Regions from separate parts of the Homo sapiens genome. Here region 2 is linked to region 1. The links come from fine-mapping of genetic effects on gene expression. Tissue or cell type: lymphoblastoid cells. Region 1 holds a variant in brackets; the other region holds the start of a gene. All regions are shown on one strand. Distances are between the middles of the regions.

Region 1 (8,187 bases):
GAGAAGTGAGGAGCCTCTCCACCCGGCAGCCACCCCATCTGGGAAGTGAGGAGCGTCTCCGCCCGGCAGCCACCCCGTCCGGGAGGGAGGTGGGGGGGGTCAGCCCCCCGCCCGGCCAGCCGCCCCATCCGGGAGGGAGGTGGGGGGTCAGCCCCCCGCCCGGCCAGCCGCCCCGTCCGGGAGGTGAGGGGCGCCTCTGCCCGGCCGCCCCTACTGGGAAGTGAGGAGCCCCTCAGCCTGGCCAGCCGCCCCGTCCGGTAGGGAGGTGGGGGGGTCAGCCCTCCGCCCGGCCAGCCGCCCCGTCTGGGAGGTGAGGGGCGCCTCTGCCCGGCCGCCCCTACTGGGAAGTGAGGAGCCCCTCTGCCCGGCCAGCCGCCCGGTCCGGGAGGGAGGTGGGGGGGTCAGCCCCCCGCCCGGCCAGCCGCCCCATCTGGGAGGGAGGTGGGGGGGTCAGCCCCCCGCCCGGCCAGCCGCCCCGTCTGGGAGGTGAGGGGCGCCTCTGCCCGGCCGCCCCTACTGGGAAGTGAGGAGCCCCTCTGCCCGGCCAGCCGCCCCGTCCGGGAGGGAGGTGGGGGGGTCAGCCCCCTGCCCGGCCAGCCACCCCGTCCGGGAGGTGAGGGGCGCCTCTGCCCGGCCGCCCCTACTGGGAAGTGAGGAGCCCCTCTGCCCAGCCAGCCGCCCCGTCCGGGAGGGAGGTGGGGGGGTGGGGGGGTCAGCCCCCTGCCCGGCCAGCCGCCCCGTCCGGGAGGTGAGGGGCGCCTCTGCCCGGCTGCCCCTACTGGGAAGTAAGGAGCCCCTCTGCCCGGCCACCACCCCGTCTGGGAGGTGTGCCCAACAGCTCATTGAGAACGGGCCAGGATGACAATGGCGGCTTTGTGGAATAGAAAGGCGGGAAAGGTGGGGAAAAGATTGAGAAATCGGATGGTTGCCGTGTCTGTGTAGAAAGAAGTAGACATGGGAGACTTTTCATTTTGTTCTGCACTAAGAAAAATTCTTCTGCCTTGGGATCCTGTTGATCTGTGACCTTACCCCCAACCCTGTGCTCTCTGAAACATGTGCTGTGTCCACTCAGGGTTAAATGGATTAAGGGCGGTGCAAGATGTGCTTTGTTAAACAGATGCTTGAAGGCAGCATGCTCGTTAAGAGTCATCACCAATCCCTAATCTCAAGTAATCAGGGACACAAACACTGCGGAAGGCCGCAGGGTCCTCTGCCTAGGAAAACCAGAGACCTTTGTTCACTTGTTTATCTGCTGACCTTCCCTCCACTATTGTCCCATGACCCTGCCAAATCCCCCTCTGTGAGAAACACCCAAGAATTATCAATAAAAAAATAAATTTAAAAAAAAAAAAAAAAAAGAATTTATCAATCAACCTGCACTTGTCTCTATCTGTACCTAGAATTCTGCTAGATAGGGCACTTTCCTTCACTAACACCACCCAAATACAAAAGGAGAAAATATAGAAACATTAAATATAAAGATAATAACACAAGTTTTCATGACTGTTATATTATGAGATACCCAGTAAAAGAGTTGTAAAAATTCTGATGAGAGAAATAACAGTGTGAACTGGATTTCAGTTTTCTGATATTTCAGAAAAGATATGCAGTTTCTGTTGTACATTAAACTCAAAGAAGTGTATGTCAGGTGAGAGAGACGGTGTGATCAAAGGTACAGAGGTGGAACAAGAGTGGAGTGTGCATAGAAATTAAGTCATGAAAATAGAGATTTTGGTGGGTAAGTACAGGTATGCTTGTTTCTCCAAGTATTAGGTAAAGAAATGCTTATTTATTTATTTATTTAAATTTGATTTGTATTTTTTGAACTTTTATCCATTTATTTAATTCAACTATAAAAGCTTATATCCGCCTGAATTAAGTATGAGGACATTTTTCCACGCCAATATTTATAATCAAGGCATACATTCTTACCACAACCAGTAATTTTTCACCCGAAACTTTGAAAAGGACCCCTATTAATTAATAGAGGTGCCTCTTGTTTTCCTATTTCATAGGTTCCATGCCATTATAAGTAACACTCAGCAACTGATAGATGCTGGTTTGCTATCATTCAATATAAACCAAATTTTCAGAAGAAATACAGTCATGTACCACATAACGCTTTGTTCAACAACCAACCTCATATATGACAGATTATAATACTGTATTTTTTACTGTCCCTTTTCTATTTTTAGATATGTTTAGATGCACAAATACCATTGTGTTATAATTGCCTACAGTATTTAGTACAGTAACATGCTGCATTCTTTGTAGCCTAGGAGCAATAGGTTGTATCATGTAGCCTAGGTGTGTAATAGGCTACACCGTCTAAGTCTGTCAATGTGAGTATACTCTATGATGTTTGTATGATGACAAAATCGCCTAACAATGCCCTGTCGTTAGCGACACATGACTGTACAATCACTAGATACTAAAGGCATAAGTATACATTCAATTTCATCTCCATGGCCTTTCTCATTGAGCTGGGAAATTAACTTGCTCATAAATCAAAATACGAAAGGCTTTCATGGTTTGCAAAGAACATTACATTGGCTTGCAAATAATGCTGGATATTTGCCCACTTTTGGAAAACAGCTGCAACAAAGTTATAGAAAATATGCCAAGTCATTTCACCCTTAGTTCTATATATATTCTTCAGAGGGCACAAGACCACAGCAGGTGTATCTTTTTACACTAGACACTGTCTGTAAGAACTATAATAATTTGAGCAGCATAAACCTATGCAAGCAACCTTAGGTACTTTTGCATATGTTATTATATACTTACTCTATTTTGCAATCATTCCATTAATTTCAATTGTTTCACTCATCAGAAATGTTACAATAAAATGAAGCAGCCATTTGGTTAATAATTTTTTCAAAATATGAAGTTACCATTTCAAAGGAGCTAGAAAAATAGTAATAATTTCCAATTCCAAGAAAGAAATCTCAGTCTTCCTCAGGCACTCTGTCCTCTGCTTGTCACTGATGTAGCATCCCATGCTACATGGTAGTGTCCAGTTTCTTCATGTTTCACAAACCACTCAACATCAAAAGCACTGGAGAGAAAGATGATACACACAAGTCTTCCAATGAGCATTCTGAGACAGTCTGTGGAACAGCTGTCCCTTTCACTCTCCCCTGCAGAAATAGCTGTGCCATTCTGAACAGCATTGTGATTAATGTTTCATATTCAAAAGTTTAATTTGACGGACCACTGATAAATTTTGAGTTGCAGAGTCAAAAAGACCAATGGATAAACAATAACCCAGTTGCTATTGACTTTGTGCCAGAAGACAATATATATGATCTTATTTCATTTTCATGACCACCCTATGGCTAGGCATTATTATTACCCTCATTTTCCAGATAAGGAAATCAAAGCACAAAGAGGTTAGGGAAGTTGCCCAAGATCACACAACTAGTAAATGGTGTGTAGCCAGGATTCAAACCCAAGCAATCTAAGAACTTGTCATTTTCTTCCAGAGACTTAATACAATGAGTTTATTTCTCATTCATGCTTCAAGGTCAACACAGGTCATCAGGAGAGTGCTCTGCTCTTCTTAGTCACTCAGAGAATCAGGCATACAGAAGCTCCATTTGGACACATATTTCCCCATTCATGCAGGCAGGAAAAGGAAATGTAGCAAACCTTGTACCAGCCCTTAAAATGTCCTCCTGGATAGAACATAAGTCACTTCCTCTCTTGTATCATTGGTGATTACAAGTCATATGCCTAACTTCAAAGAGGCTAGGAAATGCATTCTTACTCTGTGTTAGGAAGGCAGACAGCCAAAATATTTTGGAGCAGAACTAATGACAACTATAAAGGAAGTCAATGAGTGGGGGTTTTGAAGACACAGGAACATCATTAGAATTGTCAAGGAGGTGGAGCTTCCAATAACTATCTTGATTTTGATTTTTTTAGTTATGTTAAAACATCATGATAGTAAACGACATGTGGGTAAATGCCCTGTAAGAAAATCTTTGTGCTTCAGTACAAAACTATACATTGTCTAGAAAACATCCTTCTGGGTATCTGATTCTGACCCTATGGGTGTTGTCTTACAACTCTATAAATTATAGGTAACCGATTGCAATACAAAACAATTCTTGTCTATAGACATGCACATTATGTCCTGTCCAGTGGAGGTTAAACTGACTTGCTTTCCTCCCAGCAAAAGAAGCTAGTTTTGCCTCCATTTGCATGTTCATTTCAATATTTTTGATCTATAAATATATCTGATCTTTGGATTTATCTTTAAACTAGTTGTAGCATCTGCCTTGTTCCTTCATTATGAATTAAGTAAAATCTTTTAACACTATAATAATTTTTATATCTGTATGTGAGTCATTATTTTACTTTGTGTGTGTATGTGTGTGTGTGAGGGAGAGAGAGAGAGAGAGAGAGAGAGAGAGA[GAC/C]AGGGTCTCCGTCTGTTGCCCAGGCTGGAGTGCAATGGTGCAATCACAGCTCACTGCAGCCTCAACCTCCTAAGCTCAAGTGATCCTCCCACCTCAGGCTCCCCTAGTAGCTGGGACTACAGGTGCATGCTACCTCACCTGGTTAATTTTTCGTTTTTTGTTTTTTGGGATTTTTTTGGCAGAGATTGAGTTTCGCCATGTTGCTCAGGCTGGTCTCAAACTCCTGGGCTCAAGCTATCTGCCTGCCTCAACCTCCCAAAGTGCTGGGATTACAGGCATGAGCCACCGTGCCTGGCCAACTTTACCCTTGTTAAAAATCTTCTTTTAAATGGACCATTATTTTTTATAATAAACTTTAATTTTTAGAACAGTATCAGACTGTAGAAAAATAATGAAAATAGTACAGAGAGTTCCTATATACTCCATACTCCGTTTCTCCTATTTATATCTTACATATTATGGTACATGTTTTTATAGTTAATGAACTATTACTGATATATTAACTAAAATCCATATTTTCTTCTAATTTCCTTAGTTTTTGCCTAACGCCCTCTTTCTGTTCCAGGCTCTCATCCAGGAAACCACACTGCAGTTAGTTGACATGTCTCCGCCTTAGGCTCCTCTCGGCTGTGATAGTTTCTCATTCTTTTCCTGTTTTTGATTACCTTATTAGTTTTGAGTACTGGTCAAGTATTATATAACATGTCCCTGAACTGGGATTTATCTGATGTTTTTCTCATGATCAGACTGGGGTTATGGGTTTGGAGGAGGAAGACAACAGAGGTAAGGTGCCATTTTTATCATATCAAGTGATAAATATGTATGTATAGAGAATATATACTATCAAATGATTTCTCACTGTTGAGGTTAACCTTGCTCACCTGGCTAGTTTTTGTTGGGTTTCTCCACTGTAAAGTTACTTTAACCCACCTTTCCACACTGTACTCTTTATATCAGTATGGACTCACGGATCTATTTTATTTGGGGTGGCGGTGGGGCAGGTTCCAGTACTACTTTATGTTGTTGCTCAAACAGTTCCAGTGTTGGCCATTGGAAGCTCTTTCAGTTGGCTCCTGGGTCCCTTTGATATAACCCATTCTTGTGGATTTGTTTGTTGTTGTTATTGTTTTGTTTTAAGCTCTTCCTTACTTCATGGCACTACAAGATACTACAGGTTCATCGCGTACATCTCCTGCCCAGTCCTAGAATCATCCACTTACATAAGGAGCCTTGGTTCCTTTTCCTTGGTTCCTTTTATCGTCTTGTCACATTCTGCATTCAATCCTAGGATCCCCCAACCCCTTAAATTATTTTTTCATTTGCATACATTAAGGTTCACTCTGTGTACTATAAAGTTCTATGGGTTTTAACAAATACATAGTATCATATATCCATAATTACAATATCATACAAAATAGCATCACCACCCTAAAAAATTCTCTGTACTTCACCTACTCAACCCTGCTTCCTCTGCCAGCAACCACTAATAGTTTTACTATTACTACAGTCACTTTTCCAGAATATCATATAATTGGAACCATAGAGTATGTAGCCTTTCACTTAGCAATATGCATTTAAGATTCATCCATTTCTTTTTGTGGCTTGATAGCTATTTCTGTTTATCAATGAATAATATTTTATTTTATGATATACCACAATTTATCTAATCACCTATTAAAGGACATTTTTGTTGTTTCTAGTTTTCAGAAATTATTAATAAAGCTGTCAAAACATTCACATGTAGGTTTTTGTGTAGACAAGTTTTCAAATCCATTTGGTAAATAACTAGGAGTACAATTTCTGGTGTGATAAGACTATATTTAGCTTTGTAGGAAACTGTCAAACTATCTTTTAAAGTGGCTGTTCCATTTTGTTTTCCCAGAAGCAATGAATGAGGGTTCCTTTTGCTCTGCATTCTTGCCAGCAATTGGTATTGTCAGTTTTTTTGGATTTTTGCCATTCTAATAGGTGTACAGTGGTTTCTTATTGTTGTTTAATTTGCAATTCTCATCTACAGCCATACTACCTTGAACATGCCTAATCTTGTCTAATTTGCAATTCCCTAATGACAAAAATGACATCTTTCCATATGCTTGTCATCATGTATATTTTTAGTGAGGTATCTGTTCAGTTCTTTTGCCCATTTTTTATTTGAGCAGGTAATAACTTTTTAGCCTACATCATTTTGCTGGGCACCGGGCATCAGAGTCCATCTTTGATTTTCCCTTCACTCTTATTTTTGGGCAGTATCTGGTATGCAATTTGAATTGGCCTTCTCTGAAAGCCTGCTCTCTTAACCATGACTCTGTCCTGGTCTCTAAACTGCTGCAGCTGCTGGTAATGAAGATGATGATGATGATGATATATATTGAGTGCTAACTATGTGCCATTGCATGGACTGCATTGTACATATATAAGTGTACAGCATGGATTATTCCCTTTCCTCCTCACAACAACCCTAAATGTAAATACTATCAGTATCTCTGTTTTATAAATGAGAAAACTGAAAACTAGAGAACATTAAGAAACTTGCCCATGTTTACAGCTAGTGAGTAACTGAGCCACTACTGAATCCAGAGAGTTTAAGTCCAGAGCCTATAATCTTAACCAGTATGGAATATCCACACTGCCTAGAAACTAGAAAGATAAAAAGCTAAAAACAACTTATATTCTTTCCCAGTGCTTAAAAATACTTGAAACACCAAATCAGTCATTTTTGGAAACTACCAAAAACAAATATTATCTGTGGAAAAGGAATGAAACAAATTACTGATAAGTAGTCAAAATAATGTTATCTGAATGCTGAAAATGTACTCCTACCAAGTAAAACACAGAGAAGAATTAGGCAATCTTTGCCTCAAGAATTTAATGGTTAGGACAAAGGAAGGTTTCAACATCTCCAAGTTGCAGCACTAATATGACCACAAGCAATCACAGACATATGCCTACCAGGCTCTTAGTTATAGCAACTAAAGCTGGTATATTGTCTGATGCTAACTTAGCTATTTCTCCTATTGTCCTCTGAAAAATCTTATACTAATTCTAGAAACAATAACAACTGAGATACCTAAAGAAGTGTCATTGGTAAAGAAATCATCCTTCATCTCTGTATCTCTCTCAGCCTTCGCATCACCAAGCCCCTCCAACCACTTGAGTCAGAGCTTTGAGATGAAAGGGAAATCATCACCTTATCACACACAAATAGGGTATCGGTGCCTCATGGAAGGGAAGCAGTTGAGCTGGAAATCATCACTAGGTTGTCTGAAATCCTTCCTGACGATTAACAAGCTGCTTCTGTGAAAGGAGCACATGCTATGAAGAAGAAAGATCTCCACCTTCTTCTGCTTAACTCCCAGCACCACTGAACTGGGAATCTCACATCCTGCTGCCATCGGACTTCAAAAAAAAAAAAAATCTCCTTCTGAAGAGTAAAATTTTGAGGTTTGGTTTAAAAAAAAAAACCCTCCTTTTATCCACAGAATTCTTGGAAAGAGTGTCTTCTGACTCTTCCTCTCTTTCACACTTGACAAGTAAAATTCCTCCAAAACTGGCTCCTCATTTAAATATGGGTAGGAAATAGATTTAGACTTGGCATCTTGAAAAATGGGACTGCTGACATACAAATCCTGCTACTTTATGTGGTATTGTTGACACCGCTATCACTTCTTTTACTGGTTGATCCTTGAGAGCAGCTTTAATCAGGTTAATCATTACTGTTTCCAAATTTTGTTTTTAAGTTAGCAGATGATTTGAAGATTAAACCCCT
Region 2 (8,187 bases), 720 kb after region 1:
GGCTTATTGGGGTGGGACCTAGTTTCCCAGGGGATTTTGATATGCAATCCAGCCAAAAAACATCAGCCAAATTTCTTCTGCATCCATTTAGGTCTTAAAAAAAAAAAAGGCCAGGCGTGGTGGCTCACACCTGTAATCCCAGCACTTTAGGAGGCTAAGGCGGGTGGATCACTTGAGCCCAGGAGTTCAAGACCAGCCTGTCCAACATGACGAGACCCCCTCTCTACAAAAATTTTTTAGAAAAATTAGCTGGGTGTGGTGGTGCACACCTGTAGTCCCAGCTATTTGGGAGGCTGATGGGGGAGGCTCACCTGACCCCAGGGAGGTCGAGCTTGCAGTGAACTGTGGTTATGCCACTGCACTCCAGCCTGGGGGACAGAGCAAGACCCTATCTTAAAACAAACAAAAAACAAAAAAGAGGCCTGTAAGATCTGCACGAAATTGTCCACTACTCTGACCAGTTCTGAGCAGCTTGGTCCTGCTACTTCCCCTGCTGTGTGCATCAAGCTTGGTCGTCTAGCTCTTCTGGCAGAGTGAGATTATAGTCACCTAGACCACCCCTTATTGGGTTTTTTTTTTTTCCATCTGAAATCTCATCTTTTCCCTTATTGTTCTTGGAGGAGTCGATCATTTTGGACCTATCTTTTCTGGTAAGAAAACAGAGGTTTCTGCCTGCTCTGTGACTTGCCCTCCGTTATGTAACACCTACTGATCAAGGGTAGACCAGGACTCCTGGCGCATCAGTTAATTTCTTTCCACTCCCTTCAATGGCCTTGTTTCATCATTTTTGATTGGTCACAATTCAAGAAGCAAAAAGTTGCTGCACAGTGCCAAATGTACCAAGTACTCTAAAAGTGAGAGCAAGCCTCTGCGTGCCTGGGCAGGCCACTGCTGTCACAGGCCACCTGCCTTTCACCAAGTCCACTTCTATCCCTGGGTGGAGGAGGGGCAGCTAAAAGTTCTCCTTTGTCAGGACAGTCAACCATGATCTCAAAAGAACTATGATTGTATTGTGCATTTTAAACCCTTGGAATGTTACATGGTGATGAGGTAACAGTGGCTATGAATGTTCTTACAAGTGGGAGCTGAGCATTGGGTACACAAGGACACAAAGATGGGAATAGTAAACACTGTGAATCCCAAAAGGGGGCAGGATGGGAGGAGGGCAAGAGATTAAAAACTACCTATGGGGCACTATGTTCACTACTTGGGCGATGGGATCATTAGAAGCCCAAACCTTAGCATCACACAGTATACCTGTGTAACAAACCTGCACATGTATCCCCTGCATCTGAAATAAAAACACAAAACACAAAAACAAAATATAAAAACAACAGCTCTGAGTTTTGACATAAGGTGTGCAGTGCAGATTCCCAAATCTAGATTTAACATGCGACGACACTAACAGGGTCTCCACATCATTCAGAGCCAACGTCAGGGGGATTGTTGGTGAGGAGAGGGGAGTGTGGATACCAGGAAAGGAACCAACCTCAGTTATGTCAGTTGGGCCAGAGGAGGCCAAAGGATCCTATCTCCCTGATGCCTTGTCTCAGACCTCAGTTGCCTTTGTGGTTGCCTAGTGCCACGGAGGCAACGGGCATTCAAAATTCTGCTAAATAAAAACACACAGCAAATTAGGTTTTATTTAAACTCAGTAACTTACTCTCCTTGTTAAAAACTCAGTAACTCACTCCCTTATTTTCTGTAATATGACTGTCAAGATTATGTCTTCACACGTGCCCTTCACATGAACATTCTGGGAGTGCATCTTGTTTTCCTAATGTTTAAAAAACATGCTGCAAGCTAATTTTAAACTGGGATGGGTAATGAAAAAGAGAGAATCATAGACTTCTCTGTGGCACCACCTCTCAGTTAAAAATTACCCATGCCTTTTTAATCTCTAGTCTTTGAGACTAAAAGCACATTAATCTACTTATTCCTAATTCATTTTCAGAATTTTCCCATAGAGCTACTTATATTCAGTCTCAAGGCATACTATATATCAGGACATACACTAAACTTTCAAATCATATTTAACAATTGATAAAATTTAAAACTTGTTATTAAATATTTTCATTTAAATGGATTTGGAGAAGTTGCAAACATACTATTGCAACATAGAGTGAAAGACCAACACTGTAGTGACTGTCGATGTAAACATTTTAACAAAGTTTTTGATTATCAAAAGAACTGAGGTCTTTTTGGTTGCTAAATTCCAGTCACTTCATTATTGCTTTCTTTCATGTTATTCATATTATTTTCCAGATGGGCAGGAGCAGCTTAAATGACTACTGTTGTTTGAAGGGCACAGCAAGCGTTGTATGTGTTTTGGCAGGGGGTAGCATAGGGCATGAGAAGGACAGGGAAGGAAGAGATTTGGAGGTAATTTCAAGCTCGTGCTGTCTGGAAGTAGTGCATTTTAAATTAGTGTTAGTGTGATGTTCTGCAGCAGCCAAGCTTGGGAATTTTTTATATCTTTAAGCAGAGTCTGGCGAGTGGTGGTGGTGGGAGGAGTATGAGAAGAGGGTGTTTAGAAATGCTGTAACTCAGGACATTCTCCTGAGCATATACATGTCTAAAGTCAGTGCTGTGCCCTGCCTCATTTGTCATTCCAAAATACATTTTTTTCCTTCCTCCATCTAAACCATGTTCAGGCCTTGTTCAAGTCCTGCCTCCTCCAGAGACACCACTCTGGCTTCTTAGCCTTTCATGCTTCCCCTTTTCTGAATCAAGAAGGCTCCTAGAATATTATGGCTAAAGGCACCTCCAGATTACCTCTCCAATCTGTCATTGTGCAGAAGGACAACTTGGCATCCATTTGCATGAGGTCTGTAGAACATGGTTCAGTACTGTCTTACACAGTTTAAGTGTTTTGTGTGGGTTAGGCTTATTTCCCCAACTATATTTGGCAGTCTTTTAGGAAAGGACTATGTCACACATTTCTTTTGTATATTTCATAAAAATAGCATATTGTAGGTACTCAGAAAATGCTTTTGGCTCTGGTAGCACTTCTCTGTGCAATGTGGATAAGCACTGATAGAGGCTTGTTTGTTGTGGTACAAACTAGAAACAACCCAAATGCCCATTCGAAGGGGAATAATTGAATATGTTATGGCATATCCATACAATGGAATAGTATTATATATAGTTATTAAGAGAAATGATTTAATCCTGTAGCTATCGACCTGGGGGATGTCCTCAGTACATCATTATTTTTGCAAATTGTAAGAGAGGGAAATAAGCCAGGCATGGTGGTATGCATCTGTAATCCAGACTACTTGGATTACAGATACTTGGGTGGGAGGATCGCTTGAACCCAAGAATTTGAGACCACCCTGGACAATATAGCAAGACCCCCATCTCAAAAAAAGTGTGTGTGTGGGAAATAGTAAAATCCCATTTTCTGATAATAAATAACGATAATCTCATATATCTGTATCTGTACCTACCAACAAGAACACGGGCTGTTCACATTTGTGGTAGGAAAGGTTATTAAGTTTTTTCTTTATCTGTTTTTGTATTGTTGCAACAGGAAACCTACTAAGATTAAAATCCAGCAAACATAAGACAAAGATAAAATGCACAGGGGTTTTGATGCATTAGGTGTTTCCCATAGTACTTCCTATTTTTCAAACTTCGTGTGATTAAAAAAGTAAGTTTTATCCCTGACTAAATTTCAGTGTGGAAATAAAGAAATAAAGATAGCATGTACTTGGCTTAGGTATACTTGTTTTGTTCTTTCAGCTCGTTACGTAAAGATACATTTTTTTTTCTTTCTCATGACATGAAGATAAGCTTTCTTCTTACCAAAACCTAAACTGTGAAGGCAGCACCCAAGCCAAAAGCCTCGAGGCTCTGGTTTCTGTGGTGGGATGGGGAGAGAAGTAGGTTGCACAGATGTAGGATGCCAGCTGACTTCAGAACTTCCGGTCTCAGAGCTAACCAGGCTCGGCAAGCCACAAGAGAGAAGGAGCTTGCATAGGTGGAAGAGCAAAGAAAGCCAGTGCTGCAGAACTTCCGGTGCTCCTCCGCCGATGTCGGGCTGGCGCTGCTCCCGAGCCCTGTGTCCTGTGGAAGAAGTTGGTGAGAATCGTTTTGAATGTAGGCAGCCACTCCTGAGGAGGCTAGCCCTTGCTACATTAAAGGTGGAGCTAGATTTACATTTTATTTTATTTTATTTTATTTTTTATTTTTCGAGATGGAGTCTTGCTGTCGCCCAGGCTGGAGTGCAGTAGCACGATTTCAGCTCACTGCAACCTCCACCTCCCGGGCTCAAGCGATTCACCTGCTTCAGCCTCCCGAGTAGCTGGGATTACAGGGGCACGCCACCATGCCTGGCTAATTTTTTGTATTTTTAGTAGAGACGGGGTTTCACCATGTTGGCCAGGCTGGTCTCAAACTCCTGGCCTCAGGTGATCCACCTGCCTCGGCCTCCCAAAGTGCTGGGATTACAGACGTGAGCCACCATGCCCGGTCAAATTTACCTTTTAGATTCACATATTACCACCAGAAGAATGCTTCCTCTGACAACTGAGCGGTACTCCATCCCCAGAGCCCTTTGTGCAGACTATTATTGCAGTTTCCTAACTTGTTATGACACTCCAGCCTTTTCCTCCAGGTCATCATACAATCCATTTTTAGAGTGATTGTTCTAAAGCACAAATCTTAGGTCACTCCCCTGCTCAAAAACCACCCACTGCTCCCCCAGTTCCACAGAAGAGAGCTCAAATTTCTTAGCTTGGTATTCAAGACCTTCCATGATAGGATCCCTGTCTACTACTCAGCTTACCTCACTTCTCCCCTCCTCCAGCCAAATGAAACTGTTCCCTGTGTATGTTCAGGCTCCCTAGCTTCTGCTCACAGCCTTCTGAATATGAAGAAGGGAAAGTCCCTTACCATTCCATCCGTCTCTACCTGTTTAAATCCTCCCCAGTCTTCAATATTCATTTCAGAGGCTGCGTCTTTCAGGAGGCCAGGTACAATTTCTCTCCCTTCTCCATGCACTTCTCCTGCGGCCTGTGCCTTACATTCTAGCTGTGCGTATTTGTATACTTCCTGTTACACCTTGGTAACCTCATCAAGGGAGAGACTGACTCTGACATTCCAGTGTCTGAATTTCTTTCTTTCTTTTTCTTTTTCTGTGTTTCTTTCTTTCTTTTTTTTTTTTTTTTTTTTTGAGACAGGATTTCACTCTGTCACCCAGGCTGGAGTGCAATGGTGTGAGCATGGCTCACTGCAGCCTCAATTTCCTGGGCTCAGTTGGTTCTCCCACCTCAGCCTCCCGAGTCGCTGGGACTACAGGTGTGCGCCACCGTGCCCAGCTAATTTTTGCATTTTTAGTGGAGATGTGGTTTCACCATGTGTCTAGGCTGGTCTGGAACTCCTGGATTCAAGTGATCCGCCTGCCTTGGTCTCCCAAAGTGTTGGGATTACAAGCATGAGCTACTGCGCCCGGCCTCCAGTGTCTGAATTTCTTATGCTCAGTAAATGTCTTATGCTTAATACATCTTTGTTGAATTGAATGTGGTTATCTGAAATGTACCAAATTAAGTTTTAGAAAACATATCTTTTATCCCCTGTTGGAGGGGGTAGTGTGTAAAGAAATAAAGGAGCTACGCACTGGGTTGGTGTCTGTGAAAGGAAATATGATATGACTTCTTTTTTTTTGCAGAATTTCCCATTTTCCCATTTTATATTATCGAATGTTTTCCAGTCTCTTAGGCTCCTCTCTCTTCCTGCTGCCTTATCCTTTCCCTTTGACATCTGTCACTGGATGTCCTTACCATGATTTTGGATGGGGAAATGAGAAGATGCTTCCTGAAAGACTACACTGAGGGGATTCTCTAATAGATTTTCATTCCATGTGACTTTTTCTGGCTGGGGAGGGAGTAGGGGACCTTCCAGTCATCTCAGGCAGAAACTAATTCAGGTCCTGATCAACCCACTGCCTTAAATTTTAGAATGGTTGCTATAACAATTTTAGAATGGTTGCTATAACAAGATGCCTTAGGAAAAAAAAAATTGACAATGGCCAGAACAGGAAGGTGACTCCGTTTTACACATGTCCCTAGTCCCTCACCTGTGGAGAGGTGGTGAGAGTTTAACTGCTTGCTGTCTTTCCAAGAATGCACGTGGAATTCAAAGAAAAGAACAGTAGAAGGGAAGGAGAGGGTTTAAAGGAAAATTGTCATGGGCTTTGGAAAGACCTGATTGTGTAAAAATTGCTTGCTGGTGTTTGGAAAGAACCCAGGTGCTAACAGATTTTAGACAAACCCAATCTGGAGTTGCCTAAATCATGAATGATTTAATGTGACTGAGTTAATCCATATATCTTGTATACAGTAGTTCCAGCCTCCTCAAATGTAGCAGGAGATTGCCACCTTTCTGAGAGTACCTTTCATTTCTACATGCTGATTTTGTTGTTGTTTTTAAAGGACACTTGAATTGCTTTATTTAGCTTCCAATTTGTGAGATTCTCAAAAATTAAAATTACTCATGACCACAAGAAGATACTTCTGTAGTTATGGATCATTTTCTGCTATTTTTTATAAGGAATACTTTTTTATTGTTGTCTTTTTTATAAGTGATGCACATACCAGGTAGTAATAAAAAGTCATGTTTTCCAGTGCACCCTAAAACTGAACTGCTGTCTCTATTTGAACAGACAAATAAATTATACTGAATATACCTACAACCCTGAAAATCATCTTCTGGCCATTTTTCTTTTTTCCCCACAAAGATCACTAAAGTGGTTTATATTGATTAACATTATTAAATCCACCTCTCATGTTTGCAACTACATGAATTCAATATGCAGTAAGATACAGTTATACAAAGAATGTAACCCAAGCCAAGATGAGAAATAAAACCTCTATACCAATTTTTCAAAACAGGAAACTGTTGCAGAAGTATATATAGTTGTTCTTTTTGTTTCACTAAAATTACATGGATTTAAATGTTCTGTATGAACTAACCTCCTGGATCCATTGTCCTTTTTGCCCAAATTAGCTTTCTTTAAAAGTTAACTCCCCAACACAATTTAATTATCTTAGCTAAAGTTTAGGTTTGATCTCAAGCCATTTGAAACTAGACAGAGTGAAAAAATCTGTGGGTAGTTGGCAGCAGATCCTGATAGAAATATGGCACTTGGCAAAGGCTGTCTGCCTTGTTTTGATTTGCCTTTCTCTTTATGGATGTGGCCTATTTTTGAAATGTTATGATTTAAATTCAGCGATCAAGTGACAAGTCTGACAAAACAGAGCTTACATCCGCAGAGGTTCTGTGGGGGAAAAAATGGAAATGTTCCAGAACTAAAGGAAGTAACCTCAGTTTCACCTGGAAACATTAGTGTTTCGGAGGCAAGGGATTTGGGCTATATATAAAGAGTGAAGGAAAGTGGCCAAGATGCTGGGCCAAAATTGCATCCAGGAATAGAGCAGACATTAAAGAACCAAAAACTATATCTGTTGTTTTCACCGTATCCCTGTAAGTAGCACCTGGGGAGACTGTGATTAAAAAAAAGATGGGAAAGTTCTTTCCTGTGATGGCTTGGATTGTAGCAACAGCCTTCTAACTGGGCCTCTAACTCCAATCTCTCCTTCTCCAGTACTCAGTGTACACTTTGGCCAGATTAAATTCTTGGGAAAACTCTATTCCTTTCTCCTGCTCATGACCCCCATTCCTGTTTGTCCATAAGATTAGGTAAAGGCTGGGTACAGTGCTCATGACTGTAATCCCAGCTCTTTGGGAGGCTGAGGCAGAAGAATTGCTTGAGGCCAGGGGTTCAAGAGCAGCCTGGGCAACATAGCGAGACCCTGTCTCCACAAAAAAATATTAAAAATTCACCAGGTTTAACAGTGGCCTGTGCCCATAGTCTGAATTACTTGGGAGGCTGAGGTGGGAGCATCGCTTGAGCCCAAGAGTTTGAGGTGGTAATGAGCTATATGATTGCACCAAAAAGATTAGGTTAAAGCTTCTTATGCTGATGTGATGCTCCCCCCACCCAGTTATTCATTTTTCTAACTTCATCTTCTATTATTTTCCAACATGAAAGATTTACTCTCCAGTCCCCAGTCTCATCCTTCAAAATTCTGCTTAGTGCCTACCTTCTTCATCTTTATAACTCAGACCCATGCGGAGCCCCCTCAACTTTGAAAGACTGTAGCCCTTTGTTTTCTGTCTTTTGGT

What was found. PIP is the estimated chance that this variant, and not a neighbour inherited with it, causes the effect.
Region 2: it holds the start of ANKRD44-AS1, and the variant in region 1 is fine-mapped to the expression of ANKRD44-AS1 in lymphoblastoid cells (GEUVADIS, PIP 0.95).

What each region holds. Positions count from the first base shown.
Region 1 is chr2:197,915,171-197,923,357 of GRCh38, reverse strand. The region is part of intron 1 of PLCL1 (phospholipase C like 1 (inactive)); the gene reads right to left. Among named protein-coding and RNA genes, the nearest start is that of PLCL1, 110 kb to the right of the region's middle. The variant GAC/C (reference allele first, on the strand shown) is at 4,420.
Region 2 is chr2:197,194,799-197,202,985 of GRCh38, reverse strand. It overlaps ANKRD44-AS1 (ANKRD44 antisense RNA 1), which reads right to left and starts at 4,995. Exons shown (of 2, transcript NR_135584.1): 1 at 4,897-4,995; 2 at 3,713-4,068. The region is part of intron 1 of ANKRD44 (ankyrin repeat domain 44); the gene reads left to right. RefSeq lists an enhancer at 3,880-3,949.